Linked DNA regions of Homo sapiens: all the other regions are linked to region 2. Evidence: fine-mapped expression QTL. A gene starts in region 2. Each other region holds a variant in brackets. All regions are shown on one strand. Distances are from middle to middle.

The links. PIP is the estimated chance that this variant, and not a neighbour inherited with it, causes the effect. A credible set is the group of variants that fine-mapping cannot tell apart.
Region 1: its variant is the best candidate, but not a certain one, in a credible set for the expression of SCN9A in monocytes after interferon gamma (Fairfax 2014, PIP 0.63).
Region 3: its variant is the best candidate, but not a certain one, in a credible set for the expression of SCN9A in whole blood (TOPMed, PIP 0.89).
Region 4: its variant is the best candidate, but not a certain one, in a credible set for the expression of SCN9A in blood mononuclear cells (TOPMed, PIP 0.58).

Annotation. Positions count from the first base shown.
Region 1 is chr2:166,310,263-166,315,418 of GRCh38, reverse strand. SCN9A (sodium voltage-gated channel alpha subunit 9) reads left to right here. Exons shown (of 27, transcript NM_001365536.1): 2 at 3,613-3,920. The coding sequence starts at 3,663. Among named protein-coding and RNA genes, the nearest start is that of SCN9A, 63 kb to the left of the region's middle. The variant G/AG (reference allele first, on the strand shown) is at 2,603.
Region 2 is chr2:166,372,950-166,378,105 of GRCh38, reverse strand. SCN9A (sodium voltage-gated channel alpha subunit 9) reads left to right here and starts at 2,162. Exons shown (of 27, transcript NM_001365536.1): 1 at 2,162-2,409.
Region 3 is chr2:166,321,704-166,326,859 of GRCh38, reverse strand. The region is part of intron 1 of SCN9A (sodium voltage-gated channel alpha subunit 9); the gene reads left to right. Among named protein-coding and RNA genes, the nearest start is that of SCN9A, 52 kb to the left of the region's middle. The variant C/T (reference allele first, on the strand shown) is at 2,862.
Region 4 is chr2:166,400,898-166,406,053 of GRCh38, reverse strand. SCN7A (sodium voltage-gated channel alpha subunit 7) reads left to right here. Exons shown (of 26, transcript NM_002976.4): 26 at 1-2,481. The coding sequence ends at 474. Among named protein-coding and RNA genes, the nearest start is that of SCN9A, 28 kb to the right of the region's middle. The variant A/G (reference allele first, on the strand shown) is at 3,193.

The DNA of each region.
Region 1 (5,156 bases), 63 kb after region 2:
CTGGAGCTGTGTTGAGCATGTGCATGGGGGTTGGGGGAGACAGAGACAGAGGAGAATAGGAATATTGGAAGAATCAAACTGGTAATGGACATCTGAGTTCACAACATCTTTGTACCTAGATTTCTGTCAAATAATTCTTGAAAGAGATGGTACCCTCCAGTTGAATGTAGAATCTACAAAAACACCAGTTATTCAAGCCAACTTTTCTTCAAGAGCCACAGTATGTCTACACTGAAAGTCTAGTGAGGCAAGTTATCCCGTCTTCTCACCTTTATGATTTCCAAAAGTGTTGAGGAATCTCCAAAGCACAAGTGGCAACTGCTTTGATTTGATTCATTGATTTGTTTCCTTTTTACTAAATCTCTTCCTATTCTGAGGACAATTTTCACATATTTTAGGATTCAAAATTCTTAATGCATATTCATAGTAGTTTTATTAAGATATAATTTACACACCATAAAAAATCACCATTTTAAAGTGTATCACTCAGTGGTTTTTAGTATGTTCACAAAGGTATGCAACAATCATCATTATGTAGTTTTAGAATATTTTTATCACCCCAAAAGAAGCCCCATACTCTTTAACCATTAACCACATAACCATCAATAATCACTTCCTATTACACCCAGCCTCTGACAAAAAATACTCTACATTTTGTTTCTGGGGATTTGCCTATTCTGGACATTTCATAAGATGGAATCATATCGTATGTGGCCTTTTGGCTCTGTGTTCTTTCACGGGGTTTTCATCACATCCATGTTGTAACATGTACCTATACTTCATTTGTTTTTATTGCTAAATACTAATTCAGTGTTTGAATATCCCACATTCCTTTATCCATTTATTCATTGGTGAGTAATGAGGTTGTGTTTACTTTTTGGCTAGTATGAATAATGCTGCTGAACATTCATGTAAACGTTCTTGTGTGGACATATGTTTTAAATTCCCTTGAGTCTGTACCAAGTAGTGGAATTGCCGAGTCATAACTTACTCTTTACCTTTCAGAATCATCCTACTTTTGAATGTGTATATGAAATATCCCTTATTTTTCACTACATTCTTTAAAAACCTTTATCCTAACTTTGGTTTCCATCAAAATACAGGCATACTTCATTTTATGGGGCTTTACTTTATTGCACTTCAAGATACTGCATTCTTTACAAGTTGAAGGTTTGTGGCAACCCTGCATTAAGCAAGTCTGTCAGCGTAATTTTTTCAACAGCATGTGCTCACTTCATGCATCTGTGTCACACTTTGGCAATTCTCACAATATTTCAACTTTGTAATTGCCATTATTTAATTATTACTGTATGTGTTATGGTGATCTATGATCAGTGATCTTTGTTGTTACTGTGGTAATTGTTTTGGGGTGCTATGAACCACATCCACATAAGACAGCAAACAATCATTAAATGTGACGTGTTCTGTTTCAGCATCCCTATCTCTCTCCCTTTCCTCAGGCTTCCCTGTTCCCTGACACACAACGATGTTAAAATTAGGCCAATTAGTAACCCATTCCCACCCCTAATGTTCAAGTAAAGGAAGAATTGCGCATTTCTCACTTTAAATCAGAAGCTAGAAATGATTAAGCTTAGTGAGGAAGGCATGTTGAAAGCCAAGATAGGCCAAAATCTAGGCCTCTTGCACTAAGTACTTAGCCAAGTTGTGAATGCAAAGGAAACATTCTTGAAGGAAATCAAATGTGCTACTCCAGTGAACACATGAATGATAAGAAAACAAAACAGCCTTATTGCAAATATAGAGAAAGTTTTAGTGATCTAGATAGAAGATCAACCAGCCACAACATTTCCTTAAGCCAAAGCCTAATCCACAGCAAGGCCATAACTCCAATTGTATGAAGGCTGAGAGGTGAAGAAGCTGGAAAAAAAAGGTTTGAAGCTGGCAGACGGTACCCCATGAGATTGAAGGAAAGAAGTCACTGCCATAACATAAAAATGCAAGGTGAAACAGCAAGTGCCAATGGAGAAGATGCAGCAAGTTATTCAGAAGATCTAGCTAAGATCATTGATAAGAGTGGTTACATTAAACAACAGATTTGCAATGAAGGTCTAACAGCCTTCTACTAGAAGAATATATTATAGCTAGAAAGGAGAAGTCAATGTCTGGCTTCAAAGCTTCAACGAACAGGCTGACTCTCTTGTTAGGGGATAATGCAGCTGGTGACTTTAAATTGAAGCAAATGCTAATTTATCGTTCAGAAAATCTTAGAATTATATTATTTAATTATTCAGAATATTAATAATTATTTACTATTCAGAAAATTACATAATAATTATATTATTTACTATTCAGAAAATTACATAATAATTATATTATTTACTATTCAGAAAATTAAATAATTATATTCTTTACTATTCAGAAAATTAAATAATAACTATATTATTTAATTATTCAGAAAATTAAATAATAATTATATTATTTAATCATTCAGAAAATCTCTTAAGAATTATACTAAATCTACTCTGCCTGTGCTCTATAAATAGAACAACAAAGCCTGGATGACAGCACGTCTGTTTACAGCATGGTTCACTAAATATTTTAGGCCCAGTGTTGATACTTATAGCTCAGGAAAAAAAAAAAA[G/AG]ATTTCTTTCAAAATATCACTGCCTATTGACAATGTGCCTGGTCACTCAAGAGCTCTAACGGAGAGGTACAAGGGCATTAATGTTATTTTCATGCCTGCTAACGCTATCCATTCTGTAGCCTATGGGCCAAAGAGTAATTTCAACTTTTAAGTCTTATTTTTTAATAAATACATTTTATAAGACTATAGCTGCCATAGATAGTGATTCCTCTGATGGGTCTGGGAAAAGTAAATTGAAAATCTTCTGGAAAGGATTCACCATTCTAGATGTTATTAGAACATTAATGATTTGTGGGAGGAGGGCAATATACAAACATTAATAGGAAATTGGAATGAGTTGATTCCAACTCTCATGGATGACTATGAGAGGTTTAAGACTTCAGTGATGGAAAGAACTGCAGATGTGGTGGAAATAGCAAGAGAATTAGAATTAAGAGATGGAGCCTAAAATTGTGACTGAATTGCTGCCATCTCGCGGTAACTTGAATGGATGAGGAGTTGCTTCTGATTGATAAGCAAAGAAAGTGGTTTCGTGAGATGGAATCTTCTCCTGGTCAAGATGTTATGAACATTGTTGAAGTGACAGCAGAGGATTTAGAATATTACATAAGTTTAGTTGGTAAAACAGCATCAGGCTGGAGAGTGGTGCTACCAAAGGCATTATCATAAAGACTTTTAAAAGAGGAAAGTTGAGTTGAATTGCACCAAAGGTAAATATAGACGAAAAGAAGGGGAATTTAGGAAAATTTACTCAGAAAATTGTCATTTTTTACTTTAAAGCTATGAAGCGTAAACTTCAAATTTCTGAGTATAAAGATGGTTAGAAGGCACGAAAGATAAGTCCCGCCCATTGCCTGACACATAGTAATCCCTTAACAAGCTGATAATTCTAGAACATGTTACCTTTTGTAGTTGAAACTAAAAATCTGTTTATGTTGTTATTATTAGTTTTTAATGGGCCTTTCTTGGCAGGCAAATAGTTAAGTCTTTATTTCTTTGTTTCCATCCAGGCCTCTTATGTGAGGAGCTGAAGAGGAATTAAAATATACAGGATGAAAAGATGGCAATGTTGCCTCCCCCAGGACCTCAGAGCTTTGTCCATTTCACAAAACAGTCTCTTGCCCTCATTGAACAACGCATTGCTGAAAGAAAATCAAAGGAACCCAAAGAAGAAAAGAAAGATGATGATGAAGAAGCCCCAAAGCCAAGCAGTGACTTGGAAGCTGGCAAACAGCTGCCCTTCATCTATGGGGACATTCCTCCCGGCATGGTGTCAGAGCCCCTGGAGGACTTGGACCCCTACTATGCAGACAAAAAGGTGAGTTTATTTTGACTTCAGTGGTCAGTTTCTGTTGGCTTCCTTCTGTATAAAAATTATTTTAAATTGAGATTAGTGAAATTTAGTGAATAACCATATCATGACCAGAATGTTAAATTAAATATATATATATATATATATATATATATATATATATATATATATATAGGATATTCAGAATCTGTACTTTTTCAAATTTTTCATTGAAATTGGCTCTGGCATTGGCATACTACTTTTAATTTTTTTTTTTAATTATACTTTAAGTTTTAGGGTACATGTGCACATTGTGCAGGTTAGTTACATATGTATACATGTGCCATGCTGGTGCGCTGCACCCACTAACTGGTCATCTAGCATTAGGTATATCTCCCAATGCTATCCCTCCCCCCTCCCCCCACCCCACCACAGTCCCTAGAGTGTGATATTCCCCTTCCTGTGTCCATGTGATTTCATTGTTCAATTCCCACCTATGAGTGAGAATATGCGGTGTTTGGTTTTTTATTCTTGTGATAGTTTACTGAGAATGATGATTTCCAATTGCATCCATGTCCCTACAAAGGACGTGAACTCATCATTTTTTATGGCTGCATAGTATTCCATGGTGTATATGAGCCACATTTTCTTAATCCAGTCTATCATTGTTGGACATTTGGGTTGGTTCCAAGTGTTTGCTATTGTGAATAATGCCACAATAAACATATGTGTGCATGTGTCTTTATAGCAGCATGATTTATAGTCCTTTGGGTATATACCCAGTAATGGGATGGCTGGGTCAAATGGTATTTCTAGTTCTAGATCCCTGAGGAATCGCCACACTGACTTCCACAATGGTTGAACTAGTTTACCACCAACAGTGTAAAAGTGTTCCTATTTCTCCACATCCTCTCCAGCACCTGTTGTTTCCTGACTTTTTAATGATTGCCATTCTAACTGGTGTGAGATGGTATCTCATTGTGGTTTTGATTTGCATTTCTCTGATGGCCAGTGATGATGAGCATTTTTTCATGTGTTTTTTGGCTGCATAAATGTCTTCTTTTGAGAAGTGTCTGTTCATGTCCTTTGCCCACTTTTTGATGGGGTTGTTTGTTTTTTTCTTGTAAATTTGTTTGAGTTCATTGTAGATTCTGGATATTAGCCTTTTGTCAGATGAGTAGGTTGCGAAAATTGTCTCCCATTTTGTAGGTTGCATGTTCACTCTGATGGTAGTTTATTTTGCTGTGCAGAAGCTCTTTAGTT
Region 2 (5,156 bases):
AACATACTCTCACCATATGATCCAGCAATTGTGCTCCTTGATGTTCACCCAAAGGACTTGAAAACATGTCCACACAGTAACCTTCACAAAGATGTTTATAGAGGCTTTACGCATAATTGCTAAAACTTGGAAGCAAACAAGATGTCCTTCAGTAGGTGAATGAATAAACTATGGTACCACCAGTCAATGGAATATTATTCAGCACTGTAAAGAAATGAGCTATCAAGCTATGAAAAGCCATGGAGGAAAACTAAAAGCATATTGCTAAGTGAAAGGAGTCAATCTGAAAGGGCTATATTCTGTATTATTGCAACTATAGGATATCCTGGAGAAGGCAAAACTATAAAGACAGTAAAATGATCAGTACTTGCCAGGGGTTGAAATGGGAGATGAATAAGTGGAACACAGAGAATTCAGGAGAGAACTGAAATTACTCTGTAAGATACTGTAATGGTGGATACATGTCATTATATATTTGCCTAACCCCATAGAATGGACAACACCATGAGCTAACCCTAAATGTGAACTACAGACCTTGGGAGATAATGAAACCTCAAAGTAAGTTCATTAATTTTAACAAATGTTTCATTCTGGTGGGGAATGTTGATAATGGGGGAGGCTATTCTTGTGTGGGAGTAGCGGTTATGTGGGAAATCTCTGTACCCTCCCTTCAGTTTTGCTGTGAACCTAAAATTGCTCTAAAAATAAAATTTTAAAAATAAAAGAATGTGGCATTGCTTGCATCTAATAAAAAAGACCATTATTCCTATTGCAGTTGAACTCTTCTTCCTATATCTACCACCAATCAGGGAAGAGAAGGCGATTTGTCCAGGATATGGCACTGAGAATTATCACAAGTGAGCTAGTTCACCTTCATTGCACAGTCTCAGTCACTGAAGTTTCCTTCCTTCAATAGCACATCTTACAAGTCAAGAATGTAAGGTCCAAAGCCCCAGGACAAATCTCAGAAGCAAAGAAAGCAGCAGGGAAAAGTAGACCCTGGGATTTGATTTCCTTCCGGTTATCTCTAAGCATCATTTCCATGATAGAAGGTGTGGAAGCAAATAATAAAAGTGCCCGTCACTAGTGTTTATCCTGCAAAGTGGTCTGCCCTTTTGAGAGGCACCCTGCCCTATGGCCATCCTTTGATTTCTTCCCTTGGTGGAAATTTCCTGTTTCTCTTTGAGAAAGATAATTCAACCCTGTTTCCATTGTTCTTCCTCCCAGGCTGCTGTAGGAAAGCGCACGCACACACTCCACACAAAATGAATTTTTAAAAAATTTATTTTCACAGTCGCTCCTACCAGCTCTGAAATTCAGAACCCATATGACTGATGGCATATTCAGATAATCGGGTCCCAGGTCTGGAAAAGCAGCCTTTTCCCCACGTTTCTTTCCCCACCTAGGACCTCCTCTGATTCTTCACTGCATCTTCGAAAGAAAATGTATTATTTGCTTGCCTGGAAGACGCTGCAATTCAATTGATTTTATATATACATATATATAAAGAAAACAGAAAACATAGCCTAGATACCGGTCTTGAGCGTCACCGCCCCACTCGCGGTTGTGAGCAAAGCCCTACGGAAGAAACCAATTCCCAGCCTAGACTCTTCAGAGCCCAAGGTCGGGGAGGCGCTGGCCTGGCGGTGTTGTCTGGCTCCCCAGCCACTGCCCCAGACTCAGGGCTTTGCCATTGGTCCCCACCTCCTCTGCTCCGGAGTTTTTCTCCAGCTCCCCACCAAGCCACACAAAGTGACTTCTCGGAAACATTAGCCGATTCTGCTGAGCAGGAAGGGAGGAAAGGGATGATGGGGGCGGGGGTGAGATAAGGGAAGGGCTCTTCTGGCTGCTGGACACACACACACACACACTCAAACACACACACGCCCCACCCAATGGGTGGCCGTGGATGGCAGGTCGTGCAACCCCCTCCTCCGCCTTCTATTAGCGCATGGTGCAGAGGCTACAGCGTCGCCACCACCGCGCCCCTAGCTGGGTCCCCGCCCTGCGCCGCCCGCAGGAGTGGAGAGAGGGAGGGAGGGAGGGAGCAAGGGGTGGGGACCCGGGCGCGCTGGGAGGAGTGGAGGAGGCAAAGCGGCGCAGCTGCCCTCGGGGAGGCGGGGCTGCTACCTCCACGGGCGCGCCCTGGCAGGAGGGGCGCAGTCTGCTTGCAGGCGGTCGCCAGCGCTCCAGCGGCGGCTGTCGGCTTTCCAATTCCGCCAGCTCGGCTGAGGCTGGGCTAGCCTGGGTGCCAGTGGCTGCTAGCGGCAGGCGTCCCCTGAGCAACAGGAGCCCAGAGAAAAAGAAGCAGCCCTGAGAGAGCGCCGGGGAAGGAGAGGCCCGCGCCCTCTCCTGGAGCCAGATTCTGCAGGTGCACTGGGTGGGGATGATCGGCGGGCTAGGTTGCAAGTAAGTGCCTTTTCTTTTGCTGCTTCTGTGGGGAGGGGAGGAGAAGCCCTCGGTCTTTCGCCCGTGCTCGCCTCAACCGCCACACCCACCTGTGTCTATTTTCACATCTCGGTTCTGGAACCCTGTATTACGCCACCTGGAAAGAAGAGAGGGGAGAAGCTTGACCGGGTGGTTCCAGCAATGGGAGGAAGAAGGGCTGGAAGCGTAGTTATTTCGATAGCTGGGCAGCTCCTGTGCGGTTTTGACTCTGTGGGTTTGCTGCCAGGTTCTGAAACTGTGGAAAGGAAGGGTAGCAATGCCTGGTGGTTTACTGTCTTTTATTTCTGTTTACGCTAGCAGAGTTGTTAGATGGACTTCAATTCAAGGGGCAGCTCACATTTTTTACGAGCAAAAAGCATGTGCTGTATTTCCCATCTGCAAAGCTGAGCGTGCAGAACCAGCTTAGCAGATACAACCTGTGGGGACAGAAAAGAACCCCGCACCCCTTAAGAGCACACAAACACAAATAATTGACAGGACAGCTCTGCCCCTATTTCTCAGCGCAGATTATTTATTTATTTTTTCGAATAAGCACTTTATAGTGAAATTCAGAAAAGATGCAGAATCCTTTTAACTTTTTATCGAATTCAACTTGGGAAACTCATTTACTTTTAGGAAAAAATGGATATTTTCGTGCCTTATATTCAAGACAAAAATCAGAACAAGAAACTAGAAACATTAATGCCAGTTTTTGTGATTATAGTAAACATTTCACTCATTATTTTAGTTTTTTTTTTTTAAGTTGGAGCGTTCATAGATTATATCTACTCTGATGTTAAGAGCAATTTACATGAGAAACTTAGGGGGGTTTTTAAGAAGCTAGTGTCAGTAAGATAAAAGCCAAATCAAAGTAAGCTTTCAAGGAAGTGATAGCTTGTCAGTTACTGAATAGGAAGTCAGTGTTGGGAAGTTCAGTTCTTTTCAGAAACATATTTATTATTCTTTTCTATTTCTTCTTCCCTGTAGACAAGATAAAGATTTTCTTTCTCTTTCTTTCCTTGTTATTTAAATATATTTTATAATTTTTGCTTTAACATCAATATAAACCTATTTTATATAAACTGCAAACCAAATCCAATTATTAAACTGTTCATTTTATTGCAAATTCTTCAGATTTTTTCCACTATTTAAAAAAGTTTATAATTTTTTCTTATAATTATGGTGAGATTTTTTAAAAATTATTGATTAGTTTGAAAGCTAGTCTTATCTGATCCCTGTGTCGCAAATTTTCATGATTGTTAGACTAGCTTATCAACAACAAAACTCTAGACAGAATATGGTATTTGATGTAAAGAAGAATGTGCCCTCTATTTAGGCAACTGATAGTTTGGCTTAAGACAAGTTTTTTAAAATTTTGTAGAGGTTTAAAAGGAGGTTTCCTTAAGTAAGCCACTGTGCAGTTGTGGGACTCAGTGATGTGTTTTTACAGTGACTGGATATATGATATGCCTTGATTCCTATGGTGCAGGGCTAGGCTCACAGAGTACCTGATGCTTCTACAGAAGAAAGATGAGTCAGGTCTGGCTCTCTGCCAAAAGCATCTTGGGCCTCCTTTCCCCTAGGGCCTGCATATAATCATGGGAGCCCTTCTGTGGTAATGCTTCTATGTTTTTACTACCTGTTGCTGTGCTGAGTTTCAGAAGCAAAATAGATAAACAAATAAATAAATTCAGAAGAGCAATCAGTAGGGTTCTATTTATTTAATATAATCAACCCACTTTCTCTGTGGCAAGGAAAAAAGTAGAATTTTTCATTTTACATGAATAATAAAATCTATTTTTTATCCAATTTCTATTCCTATTAGTTATGCAAAAGAGTGTGAAGTGCTAGAAGGATTTATATGGTACTTTTCTAAGACAAGTCATGATCTTGTAAAAGAGCTTAAAGTTTATTGATGTAAATGGAACATTCTAGATGTCATAATGATAATAATTTATGACTTTCCCTAAAACTCTGTCTCAGATTCTTTCCTCCCATCTTCATTATCTGAATAAATGCCTTCACCATCCAAGTATTGAAATCACCTTTGATTGCTCTCTTCCTTATTACTCCATTTCAGCCCTTTCCAGCCTGTAAGTAGATCTATCAATCTTATCTCCCAAACTTATTTCTATTTCATCATACGTCTCAGATGCCTCTCATTCACCCTCTTTTCTGTATCTACACGGCCACCAAATTAGTTCAGGTCATCATCATAATTTACTTGGAATCCTGCCACAGCCTCCATATCAATCTCTCCACTTCTGTAATTTTCTCCCCTGCAATTCATTCTCTATACAAAGCAATACCATCCTGTCTCCCCTAACAAACATTGGCTCACAACTGCATTTAAAAAAAAAAAAAAAGAGGAAGAAGAAGAGGAGAAGAAGAAATAAACATGGCAACACAGAGACCAATTAGCAACAACAGTAAATGCCTTTCCTCAGCATATGGTTTACTCTCTGTTCTGTCCCTTCTCTCCAACCTCACCAGAACCTATTCTCTTCTCATTAAGGTGCTCCTGCCCAGGTCGTGGCTAAAACACATGAAACAATAGCACTCTTTAAGGCCTTTTCAAATGCTGTTCCCAATGCCTGAACTCTATGCGTGCTTACTCCTTCTTAAACTTTAAATCTCAACTCGAGGTTTTTTTGTTTTGGAAAGATCATTTTTGATCATCTTGTTAAAAGTAGGTTGTCCCGTGTTGGTCTTGATGTTGGAACCTTGTT
Region 3 (5,156 bases), 51 kb after region 2:
AGTGCAGGATTTCCAAACACTAGTGATTAATATATGACATCTGCTTACTACAGCACTGTTGTGCAGCCACAAAATCTTTCAGAAAAGTTCACAATAACTATGGCTTACTTTGATAAAGAATAGTCAGTAGGATGGTTAGTCTAATATGCTCTCATAAAAAAAGAAAAGTATTATGAGGTGGTGCCAGGACCTTGGGTCCTATTTGGCTATTTCTCCAAGGATCTCTCAATGGTAAGATCATCATATATCTAAGCTTGCCTAGAACAGTCCAAGGTCATTCCTGCTGTCTTGGTATTTTCTGTGTTGTGTAGCATTTATTCTTGACACAAAATCCTGGCTTGGAACATAAATGCTGTAGACATCCTGCCAAGGATTGAATCAAATTTATAAGTGTAACCCTGACAGCTAGGGTAGAGCTGTCTATTTCCTTCCTCCAAAGATGTTATCAGGTATTTAGATTAGTAAAATGAGAAATACTGAGATACCCTTATAATTCAAGGAGCACATAGGAATGGATATAGACTTGGTTTAAGTATTATTTTTCCCCTGTATTCTCCAGATTCAATCGTTTCGCACCTTTGACTTTCTTATCTAAACTGTAGAGCTATTCAATGACTAAATTGTACTTCTTATTGTCTTTGAATGTTTCAGCTTTATCTTGTTATTGACATATAGAATTTTTATTATCTTGATATTTCACTTATTCAATCGGAGGCCAGGTGTAGGAAGGACTCCAATATTTTCTTGGTGCCAAGACATAGAACAGAGTTTTCAGATCCATCTGGAAATTTTTCTGTTTTCATGGGAGAAGGCCTATAAGAGTTCATACTGGAAGGAAACATTGCCTCTCTCATCTCTCCTGATGACATATTTCTCTTTTATCATGGGAAGTCTTATGTTATGAGTAGATAAGTTATGAAGGTGATGTTATCGAACATAGGAGAGTAATTTAAAATATTATTGACAAAAGGGGCTTTTGTAGTTATAAACCAGGGTTAAGCGTATCCTTGTCAGCCAGAGTGGAGCTGTATTTTTGTCTTGCTCTGATGATGTTATCAGGTGTTCAGAGCTCAGTAAAATGAGAATCTCAGAGTCAAATACATTTCTTTTATCTCTATGTTACCTCACAGTTCCTAAAGTAACACAGAAATCAAAAGTCAGCCTTTTGTACCTTAACGGCATCATTAAGATGGATATGTAATAAAGCTTCAATTTAACAACTTAAAAGATATTTAGTATGCTTACCATGGTTGAGGGAGTTAAATTGTACTTATTCTAAAAGAAAATACACACAGATTCCCTCATAAGTGTATTTTTTTAGCCTATTATAATAAGACATAATGACTCTCAAGTATAATTAGGACTCAGACATTGTGACTCCAGTTTAGTTCTATGTTTATAAGTCATAAGCTCATTCCTGACCCAGGAGAGTGCATTTATAGAAAATTATCCTCCCAGGCATGATTACTTTAAGAAAACTGATCAGCATTTCTAATGGATCTCCTATTGATCAAAGCAATGCTATTTTGTACTGTGTAAAATATGTATTTTTAATGTATTAATTGTAATTCATTTTAATTAAAAGTGGTTCAAATTTATGTCTATTATCACTTAGGTATATTATAGATAATATAGATAATGGCAATGCATTTACCTGATAAATTCAAATTCACTGAGCTATTATTACCTTTATTTAATATTAGAATAATTCTACATCTGTGATTTCCTTTTGCTTAAACTTTTGTCTTGGAATAGATTTATGGAAAAATGGTGCAGATAGTAAGGACAGTTTCAATATACCCCACATCCAGTTTCCCCTGTTATTAACAGTTTATATTAGTATGGCGCATTTGTCACAATTAACAAAACCATGTGATACATCATTATTATTAACAAATGCCCTTACCCTATTCAGAGTTCCTTAGTTTTTCACTAATTTCCTTTTTCTCTTTCAAGATCTCACCCAGGCTACCACATTACATTTAACCATCATACCATCATATCACCTTAAGCATCTCTAGGCTGTCGCAATTTCTCAGGCTTTCCTTGTTTTTGATGATGTTGATACTTTGAGTGAGTATAGGTTAGGTATTTTGTAGAATGTTCCTGAATTGGTATTTGTCTGATATTTTTCTCATGGTTAGATTAAGGCTATAAGTTTTGGGAAGGAAGATCACATATGTAAAAGGCCATTCTCATCACATAGTATCAATGGTACACATTGTCAATGAGTTATCGTTGTTGATGTTAACTATGATTTAAATAAACTTTTTAGGTTCTCATGTTCTGATTCTATGGTGCCTTGAGAATGCTTTAAAAATTAATGGTACTTCAGTCAAGATTTTACCTGCAGGAAAAAATCACTATGTGTTTCTAGAGAAGTGACATTTTCAAAGCAGTATTTCATTTTACAACAGTTAGCATCAATAAAAATGTATTTTTTATTTATCTTTACATTTGTCCACTGTCTTAAATATTTATACTGACTCAATCTCATTCAGATTTTGGCAGATCTTCCAAATGATTAATTGGACCAATTTTAAATAAATAAATTTATTTATTTATTTGAGATGGAGTCCCGCTCTCTGGTTCAGGCTGGAGTGCAGTGGCGCGATCTCGGCTCACTGCAACCTCTGCCTGCTGGGTTCAAGTAATTCTCCTGCCTCAGCCTCCTGAGTAGCTGAGATTGCAGGCGCCCACACCACACCTGGCTAATTGTTGTAATTTTATCGAAATAAGATTAAGTTATTTACAGGTAAGAGGCTCAGTGATGGAATGCAAAACAGCCTGAAATTATTATAGAGTTGTGAGCATGTAGCTATTTTCCTGCTCCTTGAAATAAGAAAATATAGAGTTGTGAG[C/T]GTGTAGCTATTTTCCTGCTCCTTGAAATAAGAAAATGTCATATCATAGTCCCTCTAATCAAGATTAAAGAAACAAACAAGTAAACACTACTTGCTTTCTACAAGAGATGTCAAAAGTTATCAAAGGAAACATACTGTTTAAAGGAATTATCTGGGAGATATTTTTAAGAGAATAACTTATTCTCTTAAATAAATATAGCTTTCATATATAAGATAAACATTAATTATTACAAAAGCACAACATATTACAAAATTATATGGACATAATATGCACATACTCTAACTGAGCCACAATAGAATTGGTGCCCTGACACTAATAAATCATTTGGGAACTGCAGTTTGGAGTATTTAGTACCTGTTATGTGGCCAAGAAGGTAATAGAGGCCACTGAGACCTTTTCCAGTCTAATATAATGGGCACAACTCACATTTTTTCCTTTTAGTTATTAGGTAAAAATTAGTGTTGGTGTTTACTTCAGTGATTTTTTAGAGGATTTACAATTTTTACTGTGAACACTTAGGGAAACCCACTTCCCACCTCATCCTATAGATTTTCCCTATGTGAAGGGTTTTCATAGTACCTTGGGGATGAAAGGAAGTCCCCCAAATAATTTTCCTGATGTCTGCTTCCAATATTTGACTTCAAGAATACCGTTTTCCAAATAGTATGTTCAGAGCCATACCAGGCACACAGAGTCTCTAAAACTCTGGAGAGACTGTAATATTTCTTTGCTTGAAGGAAGGGATCATTCTTGTATTCTGTTCAGAGATTACATTAATGATATTTAAATGTTTCTCAGAAGATAAACCAAGTGTTGGAATTTATTTGCTTTTGACCCTGTTCAGCAATATTCAATGAATAAAAAAGAAAAAAGTCTTAATGATAGTTCTTGAGCCACATGACTTTGTCTAATTAAAAAATATTTTGCAAGTCTTCATATAAAGTTCAAAACAACAAAGGTGAAATGATGGGAATTTTCTTAAGAAAGGAAATTCTGCAGTGACCCAATCCTTTGAGCAATCAACAGTCATTCTAGGGATACTCTTGTATTGTTTAAAATTACATTTTACAAAATAAATAATGTCCTAAATGCCTCAACATTTTTAGAATCAGAAAAGTTGCTTAACTGGGATGTCCAAGATCATTTAGCTAGTAAGTAGTGAATCCAGTATTCAAAACCCAGGCTTTCTAGCTCCTGAACTTGTCCTAGACTCACTACTCTAAACTAAATCTCTGTTTAATATTACATGCTCATATGAAATGTTTCATGTTTAAAAGGCCAATACATTCCCATAAATGGAAATATCCTCATTTAATATAATTAATATATTTTAATTATGGAAGCATGATAAAATTATCCAAAGCAAGGAATTAAAATAGAAGGATGAGACAAGTTAATAATCTTATGAGCTCCATGAATACGTGTTCATTATGTGCAAAACTCTTCCTGTTAAGCACTTTATATACAGTTAACCATCACAATCTAAACCACTCTTCGGAGCATGATTATTAACTCAATTTTTCAAACTAGGAATCTTAGGCTCAGAGAGGTTATGTCATCTCCACAGGGTCAACAGCTCTAAAATGTGGAGCACAAATTGTAATGGGAAAGGCCAAGATGATTATTGACCTGTGAGCCACTGAAACCAGTGTGAATTGTTCTGTATGGAATAGAAGTACACTTCATGATATATATTGTAACTGTTGCTGAAGGATTTTATTCATTTTACATTGGATCAAATGGAAATCGAGCTGTATATTAAAGATTTTACAAAAGCTCCAAATTAAGAAGAAACTATAGAAACTCAAATAAAATGAAATTTTTTTTAAAAAAGTGTTTTCTAAGTAGTGTTTCATAAAGTAATACAAATTTTTAGTTATTAGGCTGATAAAATAAATCTATTTCTTTTAGTATCTTTGTCCTTTCTTTTTGAATGTTGTTACACATTCCTGAAAGTTGGAAGATCAGCGTTTTAAAATAAATGCTAGGAAAGACCTAATGTAACTCTTGATTATTTTACAGCATCAAGAGTTCTTCCTTCTTCTTGCTTATTGCTTGACAACAGATTGACTGAGGATGCTTTAGAGCTGACAGGTTTGGAGGATGAGGGATGAGTGAGTATGAGCAAAACTCTGAGGAGGAGCACTGCATGCCTCAAAAGAACTTGGAGAGAATAAGAGTTACCAAAAAAAAAAAAAAAAAAAGATTTTGCCAGGCTATAATTGGAATGAAGTGATATAAGTGACATGAATGATGCTTAAAATGTTGAGAATTAAAAAGTAAATATTAAAACA
Region 4 (5,156 bases), 28 kb before region 2:
GATCCTGATAGGACCCAGTACATAGACTCTAGCAAGCTTTCAGATTTTGCAGCTGCTCTTGATCCTCCTCTTTTCATGGCAAAACCAAACAAGGGCCAGCTCATTGCTTTGGACCTCCCCATGGCTGTTGGGGACAGAATTCATTGCCTCGATATCTTACTTGCTTTTACAAAGAGAGTTATGGGTCAAGATGTGAGGATGGAGAAAGTTGTTTCAGAAATAGAATCAGGGTTTTTGTTAGCCAACCCTTTTAAGATCACATGTGAGCCAATTACGACTACTTTGAAACGAAAACAAGAGGCAGTTTCAGCAACCATCATTCAACGTGCTTATAAAAATTACCGCTTGAGGCGAAATGACAAAAATACATCAGATATTCATATGATAGATGGTGACAGAGATGTTCATGCTACTAAAGAAGGTGCCTATTTTGACAAAGCTAAGGAAAAGTCACCTATTCAAAGCCAGATCTAATACCACTTACCACCTCTTTTCATATTTCTTCACATATCTGAAAAATGTTGAAAGCCTAAGCCAGGAATAAAAGAAAAGTAGAGATAATAATCAGTTCTTTACAACCGATGGTAATTAAGCTTGTATTCACAAGACTTCATGCCAAATTCACTTTTTAGCATTATATCTAACAAATCAAGAGAATCCTTAATATTGCTGCAGTGAGTTTAAAGTGGGTTAAAGTGGCCATTTGACAATCTCATATTTGTTTTCTCTACATGGCTTATATGATGTGTGCCTTCTAGGGAATGAAGGGAAGTGGTGATAGAGATCAGCAGCAGCAGGGGCTTTCTTTTATATTTTATGTATAATTTAATGGGCTTTAAGTCACCACTATTAAGACTTACAAATAAGCAAATACTTTCCTGATGTGGGATGGTGAAATGCTAATGGCCATTAAATCATAAACTTGCCTAGACAAAAGCCAATTGGAAGAAGGGAGAGAGCAGTTCTTTAGAAAGTGCCTTTGAGATCAACCTCAGAGATTCTTGGGCTGATTAAAACTGCATTTGAAAAAGATTGGTTGAAGCTCTGTGTTTATTTTTGTATGTTCTTGTTTTCATTTGGAACTGGGAATGAATAGGATTTCATTGTGCTCAAGCTCCTGGTTTCTCATCTCTGGATAGTTTCACCTAAGCTCTGGCTCTTAAGCAGGACAGATTCGTAAAACAAGAAGCATAAAGGAGAGGTATAGCCTTTTTTTTTTTTTTTTTTTTCATTTTCTTCTCATTTACACCTATTTTTTTAAAAAGTATACATTTACTAAAATGATGTAATAAATAACATGTTAATAGACTCAAGCTTTACCTTATGAAATTGATGTATTTTTACCAGTTATTTCTAATGTAACATTGAATATATAAGATCTGACAAATGTATGTTTAAACATGAATTAGAAGAGTTGAGAACTACCATTATGTATAGGGATTCTCATAGTGTCTTGGCCCTTAATTGGAAAGTTGTGGCAACTTTAAAGTACTTTTTACTGTATGTTATAATTCTTTATAACTTAGAGAGAGACAATGGTCACTCAAACTATGAGAACTATGAATTAGGAGATAAAAGTTTAAATTTGTTGTTGTTTTATAACAGTATGTACAAGTTAGTTTTCCCTTATATATTTACGTTTTCAAGTTTTTTAATCTCATCATATACATCCATACTCTATAAAATGTTTTATATTCAAAGAACTGTAAAATCCTAAACATTAGTTTTCACTATTGAAATTGTTTTTTAAAGATAGGCATAAATAGTTGTCCTTAGACTTATTCATACAAATATAGTCATTTACTTCTATGTAGTTTGAGATTCTGAGAGTTATTCCAACTTTATGAAGATTGATTTCAATGTGCCTGCTAAGTCCTAAAAGATTCAGAAAGAAAATTTATATATTATTGATTTAAATATCATCCTTTAAATATGTTGTATAACATTCAATATAGTTTATGTATCAGTGATTGTATTTTATTCTGAATGCATGATCTCAAGCCTTAACTACTATAATCTTTTTCTGCCCCTCAGAAATTGAATAACCTAACCAAGATGCCTTTAGGGGATGCCCTAAGTAAATGTAATTTCAGATTTCAGGGTTTTTTTTTTTTCCTCTCTAAGTGTTCCTTCCCTTTCTTCTCCTGCTCTCCATCATGTTATGGAGACCAGTGAGGAACCAGTGTTAACTTGGTGACAATGTGACAGCTGGTGCTTTATCTAAGCTCCGTTTTCTATTTCTTGGGAATGCTTTATTGTGGAAACTGCTTCAGATACTTAAATTGAATCATAACTTGCTTCTGTAAATTGCGTAAAGACAACAAACTGATTTTAGTTTGAAAAGTTTATCTTTTACTTGTAAACCTTGTTTGCCAGTTACCTTCCGAAAGCTGTGTAAAGAGTTATTTTTAACAAAGTCTTAACAATATATGTTACTTTTTAGATACTATAGAAAATAATAAATATAACCTGTAAACCACATTAAGCTATGTTTGTTTTTAATTTGATAAATCACATTGGCAACTTTGTGTAGTATACTTTTTAAAAATAAGCTTTACATTAAAGTTTGTTAATTCAGGCTTAAAACTGGAAACAGTTGTGCTTTCTTTAGATCACATAATTTTGTAAAATACATTTTAGTAAGCTTACCAGTGGCCCCTACACATTAACAAGATGTAAAATGATCACTCTTCTTATCAAAATTATAATGATAATTTTACTAGATATATTTTCGTATTATTAGAATTTGCTTTCTGGAAGATAATACTGAAATTAAATTTATTGGTACACTACTATTTATCAATTTCTGCATCTTCAAAAATTTTATTGTGCTTCATTAGTAAATATAATACACTTGAAATTGTTTTAAAGATAATGGTAACAGCTACCATTTATTGAGCACACTTCTATGCCCAGCCTTATCGTATGTATTTATCGTGCATGAAGAAGTGATCACTCTCAGTTCATGAGTGAAAAAAGTTAGGTTTAGAAAGGTTATGAAGTTTTTATATGGCAGAGACCCTATAAGTAAAAAGGCCAGGACTCTAAACCAGGTCCAGTTACAGAGCCTTAATGTGTTTTCTCTCACACTCGCTCTCTCGCTCGCTCGCTCTCCATCTCCCGCTGTCCCACTTTCCCCATTTGGTGCAGTAAATTTTAAAAGTAGAGACATTCCCTGGAAAAAGGGAAGTC[A/G]TAAGGGATAAAATTATAGAAGTTGAAAAATTCAACGTTTTGTGAATGCTGAATACTAAAGGTAAACTCAGATCCTATTCAGATAAAGATATATCTGAGACTGAAGGGCTTACTGACTACTGGGGGGAAACGTAATATGCAGCTGGTTATAATATGTGATAATTTTTATACTGTGAGTGTACATTGTAATACACATATAGGCAGGAATGATGGGTTCTGTGTTGGATATCAGAGGTGAAGTGAGTAAAGTGGGCTCCTGCAGAGAAAGGAGGACTTTGTCAATTAAAGAAGGCAATTTTATTAAACACAGAGGCACTTTTAAGGAGAAGAGTCCACCACAGATATGAGACCTAGGCATCCAGCTTATAGTTCTTCAGCCTGGAGGATAAAGAGATATGAACCAAGGAGACGATGCAATCCCTATTGCAGAGATTAGCTAGAAAATCTGAGCAGAATTACTCTGGACACCTCAAATCCCTTCTCAGACATGTTTTATTTTTCCCTTTGGTTTTTGAACTTTCTCTTCTGTTGTCTGTTCCTTTCCATAAATTCTGGGTCTGCATTCTTAGCTATGATGGTTAATAAAGAACTCCAATGAATGATTTGAGTCTTCACAAGTGGAAATTTTCATCTTTATGTTCGGTAAACTAAAACTTTCAGGCTTAGACACTTAATCATCTCCTCATCTGTATGGAAACCTCTGTCTTCAACTACTTATAATCACACACTGACTCAAATAATTCTATCTCAACTCCAGCCCTAGGTTCTACTCTCTATCCAGGTGGCGTAACCCTATACTCCTTGATTCTGGTCTAGGCTTTTTGAAAGCCTACACCTTCAAATGATCCATAAGTTCTCAGTCCACATTTATACACAATTTTATCACCATTTTTCCTTATTTTCTCCCTCCATGTTGTCCTGTAATAAAAATCTGTTGAGCACCTCCTAGGTATTAGGCACAACAATTTAGAGATAAATAGGGTTGCTCTTATCTTTAAAAAGTCATTTCTTAGTGTGACAAGTAAAACACCATGTTGGAACTATTTGTTAACTCCCTTCCAATAATGGAGATCCTCAACAAGGGCTAGTGGAAAATCTTACTGAACTTAGCAGAAAAGCTGGATCTTAAGCTAAGTGTTCAAGTAAATGGGATTTTGTTGGAGGTCATGATGAATATGAGGAATGACATCCTAAGCTGAAGTGACAGCAAATATAGAAGTGTGAAAAATAGAGTCCATAAACCCCAAGTCTCTCTACTTGTATGTTTATGCAAAAAGCATTCAAAAAATGGCATGAGATGGTAGAGTTGGATTCTAGAATGTGTTCATATGAGGGAAAGAAAAATGACAACTCAAGAGTGTTAAGGTTGAGGTGACCTCAAAGGAACACTTAGACTGGGTGCAGTAGCTCATTTCTGAAATCTCAGCACTTTGGGTGGCCAAGGTGGGAGGATTGCTTGAGCCCAGTAGTTCAAGACCAGCCTGGGCAACATAGTGAGACCCTGTCTCTAAAATTTTAAAAAAGGAGAACACTTAAAGTGGGTTTTCTCAATTACCAAGCAAAACCTATCTTATACATGAAATTGCTCGTATTGTCTATCATTCTTTTTAAAATATATTTATTGAGACATGATTAACATATGAAATTCTCCTTGTACAGTATATAATTAGATGGTTTTAGTATATTAACAGAGCTGTACAAGCATCACAGCAATTCAAGTTTATAACAGTTTTATCTCTGTTGAGAGTCACTCCATATTCCACCATCACCTAACCCTAGAAAACCATGAATTTACTTTCTGTCTCTATAGATTTATCTGTTCTAGACAGTTAATATTAATGGAATAATATAATATGTTATTCTTTTTCTTTTTTGTTTAACTTTTATTTTAAGTTCAGGGGTACAATTGCAGGTTTGTTACATAGGTAAACTTGTGTCATGGGGATTTGTTGTGCAGATTATTT